2 separate regions of the Homo sapiens genome follow, and region 1 is reported to be linked to region 2. Evidence: microRNA targets listed by miRTarBase, many of them from high-throughput screens and not tested one by one. Region 2 holds a microRNA gene; the other region holds the end of a gene's coding sequence.

Region 1 (3,000 bases), not on the chromosome of region 2:
TGATGTATATCAAAACCAAGTTTTTTTTTCATTAACATTGTAACAAAATGACATCGAACAAAATGATGTTATTTGAAACCAGGTTATTTGAGGACCTTCTGTACTTGATTTGCTTACCTGCTGTACTTTAATTTCCTTCAAGTCGCAGTTGCTAAGAACCTATTGATGACATTAAGGACTTACCGTATGCAGATGATTGCTTGGGGATTTGTGAAGGGGTCTCTCATTTTCTTGATGAGGTAAGGGTTGTACAGATATGTGATTCCCCTGATCCCTCTTCTCTCAGGTCACTCTACATGACATGATCCTGAAAAATATCGAGAAGATCAAACGGCCCCGGAGCAGCAATGCAGAGACTCTGTACTGAGGCCAGGGCCAGGGCCAGGGGACTCTGTGAGTCTGGCTCAAGACCGACATTGCCTTGGTTTGTTACATGACTATCGTGATGGGGAAACTGGCTGGAAATAGTAATCACACCTCTCTGTTTTTAGTTAGAGTCTAATGAAACTCTCATCTAGTTCTGTGATGTGTTTACCTCTTTTTTCAGGCCTCAGGAACTCTTCTATTTCCTTCCCTAATACCCCACACCCAACCTGTCGTAATTTCTGGAGAACTCCAGGTTTGTGTGTGCAGGATGTTGGCACAAAAATACCTGTGTTTTCATTCTCCCCCTCTCTCCCTCCTGTGTCTTGCGCTTTATGTTTTCTTCCGTTTGATAATTAGTTGGTTAAAAGCTGAGGGAACCGGAAGGAAAGTGCTAGGTGTTTTTTAGGAACTAGGGTGGCGGGGGGACGAACTTCTCTTCCTCACATGAGGTTACTGTTTCTTTCCTCTGTGGGGCATTGGATCCTCCCACAGTTGCCCTGGTGATGACTTAGGGCTTCCCATCTGTGTACATCCCACTTTGAATCTTGATCGTGACAAGAAATACCTTAGGCCTTCAGTCAATTCCGAAGCTCCTTCAGTTGTTTTTATAATGGGCGTTTTCACATGCACATATGTGTATGCATGTATACGCCCATACAGACATGCACACACAGACTCCTACTCCATTAGCTAACATACCCTCCCTCTCCACAACCCCTGTCACATACCTTTCAGGAGGTGACAGTTGTCTTAGTTGTCATCTACCCAGACAAACGTCCTGGGCCCGTCCTCCCTCCTGATACTGTAGCCTCTTGGTACCCAGGGTGAGTTGGTGGAGAACAGAGAGATGAGAAGCAGAGGGCTTGGGGAAAGCCTGTTCCTCTCTGACTCAGCCCTTTTTGGCATTATTGCAAGAGCTTGACTCCTGGTTGCCTTTTCCCAGCCAGTTTTCAGTTGGGGTGAAGGTTTCTGCAAGTGTGAGGTCCAGATGCTGCTGCTCATGTTGGGCTTTCCTTTTGGGAACTATTTCTCTTTATTTATAGTGTCGGGCTTCCGGGGAAAGCAATCATTGGTGTGTATGTGTATGTGCATGCACACACGTGCATATACACATTTGTGTATGTGGAAATGTGCTGGGCAAGTCAAAACTATAGAAGAGTTGCCTCCTGTCTCTCGAATCTTCCAGAGATATCACTTAATTGTTAACAGCTTTTGTGTTAATCCCCTTCAGCCCCTAGCTCTTTTATTCTACCACGGCTGGAGAGTTGATACCTGCAGTCAGCCTGCCAGTGACTCTTAGTGTCTGTTTCTGACTTATTTTTCCTGTCTCTGTCTTCCAACCCCCAATAATATTTCCACCGGGGATGCATCATTTTTACTCCCAATATTCTGTAGAGAGGGAGTCAGGATGCTGTCTTCCCACGAATAGTACTCAGTAACAAACCAATTGCATTTTAGTTGGGCAGTGCTCCCACCCACCCTCCAGATCCCTTCCAGCTAAAACCCTTCCCCCTTCCCTCCATGTGTTTCTCAGTTTCCCGTTTCGTTTGTTGGACTGTTCCACTGCCCCTCCTCCTCACCCTATCACCCATGGATCGTAATGTAAAATTCTTTTACCATGTCAAGAAATTATTAAAAATACAGGTACTTTGACCTCTTTCTAAAGCCGCAGACCCTGGTGCAATGCTCTGGTGGCTAGGGATGTACTCATGCTCATATGTGTGCACGCTTGGACACCCACCTCCATGGACACCTAGCCACCCTGTTGTGTGTCCTTATGCCAGTTGAGCTGAATCTTTTCCCCAGTATAGTGGAAAGACTGAGGCTTCTGCCTACTGAGCAAGGTTGGGTGCTTCATTTGTGTTCAGTCTGAATTATGGGAAAGTTAGCTCTTCCCAGACCTAAGCTGCCTTCTCTCCCTACTTTCAGAAGATCCTAGTTCCTTCCTTCCCGAGTGATACCCATGAACTGCCAGTAGAGGCTGCTATCGTTCCATGTGTAAGGAATGAACTGGTTCAAGGCGCGTCCTACCCAGTCATTTTCTTTACCTTATACTAATTCTTCCTGAATAATGTCTTCAGTTTCTTGAGGAGACTCCTAGTTTTGGTTTTCAAATTACTTGGAGGGCTGCCTAGGAATCTATCTCCCTCTGAAATAAAGTTTCCTCATCTTCCACCTTGCAAGTAGCCTTCTGGTTTCCAATGATCCCCTCGTTGTCTCTGTAAAAAGAGTTTAAGGTCTTGAACAATGGAGGAGCAGCTGCTCTGTTCTGTTTCAGAGATGACTACCAAAAGCTAGCGGTTTGTGAGTGCCTCCCCTGTGCCAGGCTGTTAAGTACCTAATGTGCATGATCACATTTAATCTTCAGGAATCTATAGGATAGTTGTATCTATTTGTTACAGATGAGGACACTGAGACTCAGGATAAGTATTTCCGCTAAGGTTACACAGCTGAGGGAACTGGGATTGGTGGACAAACCTGATTACTAAGCCCAGGCCCTCAGCCACTCCACTGGTTGGAAATGGCCTGACTACAAATCAAGGGCTTGGCATTAGGCAACAAGTAGAATTCAGTGCTTACTGCTGAACATGGCAGTGAATCCTGGAGCTGTTGGGATGCAGTTCCTGCCAGGAG
Region 2 (4,496 bases):
TCTTTGCTGAATAAATGAAATGATGAAAATTCTAGCAATAGATAATCTTTTGTTTATCTAGGTGATATCTTTCTGACTCAGAAAAGCTTTTGCAAATGCTCTACCAAAAAGGAAGGCTAATCTTTTATCTTCCCAGTGGGGTAAAGCTATTTATTGTAGCAGCCATATCAAAGGCTGGTAGGAATTCTCCAGTCAGTGTGGCTTAAGCCAAGCTTTGCAGAAAAATATCTACCTTGTTCATAAAGAACTTCAAGAAAGATGATGCTTCCATTTTCCTCAAGTAATCTTCATTGTTACTGACTCTTATTCTTAGAAAAATGTTTCTATTTTCACATCACAGCTTTTGAATTTTCTCTTGTTCTGCTTTCTTACAGCAGACCATCCTCTAAATGTCTGTCACCTTTTTTCATACCAAATATGCCACCTTTTTTGTTTTAAACTTAATTCCTAGCTGTTGTGTTTGCCAGTCAGTGGTAAGTAAAGCTGTTAGTCACACCTAGGTTCAGCTGATTGAAAGCACATACTCTGTTACACCATGATGCCTTCTTTCAAGAGGAGCTGGTTAGGGAAGATCATGACTTATATTTGTGGACATAAGAGGGTGGCATTTAGAAATTCAGGTCTTTGGCTCAGGAGAGAATTTGAGATTACAAAGAGTGCTGTCATCTACAGCGATATGAGGAAATCAGTCTTTTACAAATTAGATTCGACTTCCCTTCTTGGGAGTGCATACACTAATTATGTATTATAACAGTAGCTTATGTCTTGGTTCCATAGTATACTGGCATTTAAAAACCATTTGTTTTATTATCACCTTATTTTAAATACAGAAAAAATTTTAACAACCTTTGGTACCAGAACTATAATCTAATGGTTCTCAGAATTGATAGATTTTTATGAGTCTGATAAATATGGTACAGACTAAAGAATGGGTTATGGCCTGAGACATTTTTCTAACCAAAGCTATATCAAGTTATGTAATTTTAAGGCTATAATTCAAGGTGTTTTTTTTGCAGTTTAAGTTCCTAGGGCTGTTTCTTTACTGGCTCAAATTCAAGACTTAAAATGTACAGATTTTACAGAGATTCCTCTGAAGAGCTTTCTCCTGTGGAGAAGATGGTAGTGAGTTCTCTTTCTAAGAGCTCCTGTTGGATTTTTCATCCTGAAGGTTTGTGTTGAAGAGGCAATATGTTTCTTCATGGAAAAAGATTTTGAGGGAAAAATAAGTGGTTATTTATAATTTATGAATGACTATGAAAATATTGTAATGTCCTCAAAGTGCAGTTTAGCCTACAAATATCAGTGATACCAACTTTTATAAGCATCAGTCATTAATCATCATCTATGTTGCAGCTAAGTGGAAATCATTACATTCATTTATATGATCTGTGAATAAGTCAAAAATGGAATTGAAATTGGGGGTTAATTGCATGACCAGACAGTGATAGTGTCTGTTCGTGAAGCTTTGCCTTCTGAAGTATGTGGTTTCTTTATGATCACTATCTCATTGAAGTTTTGAACCTTACTCATTATTTTGATTCTGAATAAGTATTCTTCTCAGTTGAATACATTTGCAATTGGGTTTTCATTTCATGAAGTTTTGAGTCAGTGGCATGCATCCTTTATCCCCAGACCATTTTCCTCTCTTCAGCAGCATGTTGTCTCCTGAATGTATACATCACACCCTTCTTCCCTGATGCTCCCATTCTGCTTGCTCTGGTGGAGATATTGCACATTACTAAGTTGCATGTTGTCACGGCCTCAATGCAATTTAGTGTGTGTGATATTTTCACATGAGTGCATGCACACGGGTATGGCTCTTGCTTGCTGGGATTACAGCTTTTCAGTGCCAGTGGGTGGGTGTCCTGATGAATTAGATAAGACAGTGTGTATGCCATGCGATTCTCATTTGGAAAGTGAACATGCTTCCCATCGGTACCTTCCAATTTTGGAGAATTAAAAGTATTTGGATTAAAAAAAGTCAGCAATGATCATTTAGTAAATCAGTGTTTCCATTTTTTACTTTGAGCAAATGAAATATTTATTACAAATTCTCATTGATTTAAGAGTATAAACAATATTTAAATGTATAAGGAAGAATGTAAAGCTGTAAGAAAATGTATTTTCATTTATTTGAAGAAATCTCTCCCAACACTGGAATAGAGAAGCAGAAATCTCTTATGCATATTTGGGGAAATTAAATTAACTGGAGTTCTTAAATAATAATCAAGACAGTAAAGGTATGCTTAACCTACCTGATGAAAGATTCATCTCATAAACTTAAGTTTCCAAGGTAAATTACCTTAAAAATGTGTCTTTTACTTTCTCATTGTGATGCTTCGAAAACTGCTAAATTCATTTTAGTGGGCTAATAATGGAACTAGTTTTGAAATACACGTTTACTATTTGCCTATGTAATTGAAACAACCCCTTGTTATTTTTTTAGTTAGCATTAGAGTAAGCATCCACAATCACTAGGCATTGTCAAGGACACAAAACCATGTATTACTGTATGAAAATATTGAATTAATATTTACTACTACCATAGCCTCCAGATGATCTATTGTGATGCTGTCATTGTATGTTTCTGTGTTTCACCACTGTTTTGGAGGGTGAGAATGGAAGAATTCCACGTAAGCAGCTCATCCCCTGTGCCCTTCAGCAGCTCGGCCGTTCCCCTCATGCTGGAAATCTAATGTCAGCCAGGTTGCTATATGACACCCTGTGGAGCTGGGTTTCCAGGGCAGATTAATCAAGAAAGGGAAGATGTGACCTCTCAAGGGAGGTTGGGGCTGGGAAGGGGTGGGTAGAGAGAGATTTGTTAAAGGATACAAAAATTACTTAGAAGGCATAAGTTCTAATGTTCTACAGCACTGTAGAATGACTGTAGTTCAACAATAAATTATATCATTTCAAGTAGCTAGAAGGAAGATACAGAATGCTCCCAACAAAAGAAATGAGGCCAGGTACGGTGGCTCACGCCTCAAATCCCAGCACTTTGGGAGGCCAAGGCGGGCAGATCACCTGAGGTCAGGAGTTCAAGACCAGCCTGGCCAACATGGAGAAACCCCATCTCCACTAAAAATACAAAAATTAGCTGGGCTTGGTGGCATGCACCTGTAGTCCTAGCTACTCGGGAGGCTCAGGTGGGAGAATCTCTTGAACCCAGGTGGTGGAGGTTGCAGTGAGCTGTGGTCATGCCACTGTACTGCAGCCTGGGCGACAGTGAGACTCTATCTCAAAAAAAAAAAAAAAAACCAAAATGATAAATGATCAAGATGATGGATATGCCAATTACCCCTATCTGATTACTATACATTATATGTATTGAAACATTATTATGTACCCCATAAATATGTAGAGAGCAGTCAAGGGAGCTGGCGAGTACTTTTCCCACTGGTTATTGTATATACTGTGTCTCTAAAAGCTGACTGGTCTCTCCCACCAGCTCACTTTCTACTTGAGACATACCATATTGCAGTGAGGCTAGAATACTGGGAAGGGGAATGACAGTCCTTTAGAAAAGAGGGTGGAACCAGTGTAAGGAAATGTGGAGGAGGCAGAATTTCACTTTGGACTCTTCACTCCTCCTTTTCTTCATTATTTATCTTCTTCCTTAGACAGGTAATTCTTACTCAGCTGTGGTCTAAGGCCCTGTGTACACTGAGTTTATAGAGCTTCTGGACTGGTTTGTTATTCTCCCCATCCCACTCCTTGCTTCAAATATCATTCCATTAAAAGCAGGTCATCTGATTAAATCCTGAATTGTCTTGTTATTTTTTTCTTACTCAGTTTAGAAAAGTAGCAAGCACAATCTGGTTTGTCAGAAAAGAGAGGGTTGAGAGCTAAAGTTAAGTATCAGGAAACGTGTGAAAAAGTAAGTTTCATCCTAGGATTTATAAAGGATGAAGATCAAGAGCTGGTTAGGAAGAGTTAACATTGTAAACAATCATTTGAAGTCAATTCAAGCTTCTGGTGCAGAGGAGTTATTATTAAATATAGTTGTGTAAAGGAGGCATGGATATTCACACCTTTAGTGCCATACGGTATAAATATACAGTAGGCTTTATTAGGGGAAAATCCTAGCTGAGAAAAAGCTGATCCTAACTAACTCTTGGAACTTTTATTCCACAGAGAGGTATGCTTAGGTGGGGCATAGCTGGATTGGATGCACGATGGCCTACCTTCCAATGGACAGGAATCCTGCTCTATAATAGTCTATATATAGTATGGGACAGGAGAACATCTCTAAGACTGTGTAGTAATGGGAGGTCTATGAATAGGGAATAGGCCTTGTTAGAAAACCGTGCCTCTAGCTCAGTGGCTGGTGTGTCAGTCTCTTCTTCCATTGAGCTAAATCACGTCCATCTGAGCTACCAAAAGGAGGGAGGAAAAGAACCTCCAGAGTTTGATTCTCATCAACTATTGAGTGCTAGGAGAGCTTGGACTAAAATTAAAGAACAACTGTCAATAATCTTTGAAGAATCACTGAAGAA

The links. Region 2 holds the annotated microRNA hsa-miR-32-5p (UAUUGCACAUUACUAAGUUGCA, at 1,727-1,748, shown strand). A microRNA usually pairs through its seed, bases 2 to 8, with sites in the 3' UTR of a target mRNA and lowers its output. Matches are read on the target gene's strand: a 7mer-m8 pairs with bases 2 to 8, a 7mer-A1 pairs with bases 2 to 7 and ends in A, and an 8mer does both.
Region 1: the mRNA of PSME3 is a reported target of hsa-miR-32-5p. Seed matches in the 3' UTR shown: 7mer-m8 at 2,045-2,051.

Annotation. Positions count from the first base shown.
Region 1 is chr17:42,841,212-42,844,211 of GRCh38, forward strand. It overlaps PSME3 (proteasome activator subunit 3), which reads left to right. Exons shown (of 11, transcript NM_005789.4): 11 at 287-2,549. The coding sequence ends at 367. Among named protein-coding and RNA genes, the nearest start is that of AOC2, 1.9 kb to the right of the region's middle.
Region 2 is chr9:109,043,524-109,048,019 of GRCh38, reverse strand. MIR32 (microRNA 32) reads left to right here and starts at 1,722; the gene lies at 1,722-1,791. All of the region lies in intron 14 of TMEM245 (transmembrane protein 245), which reads left to right.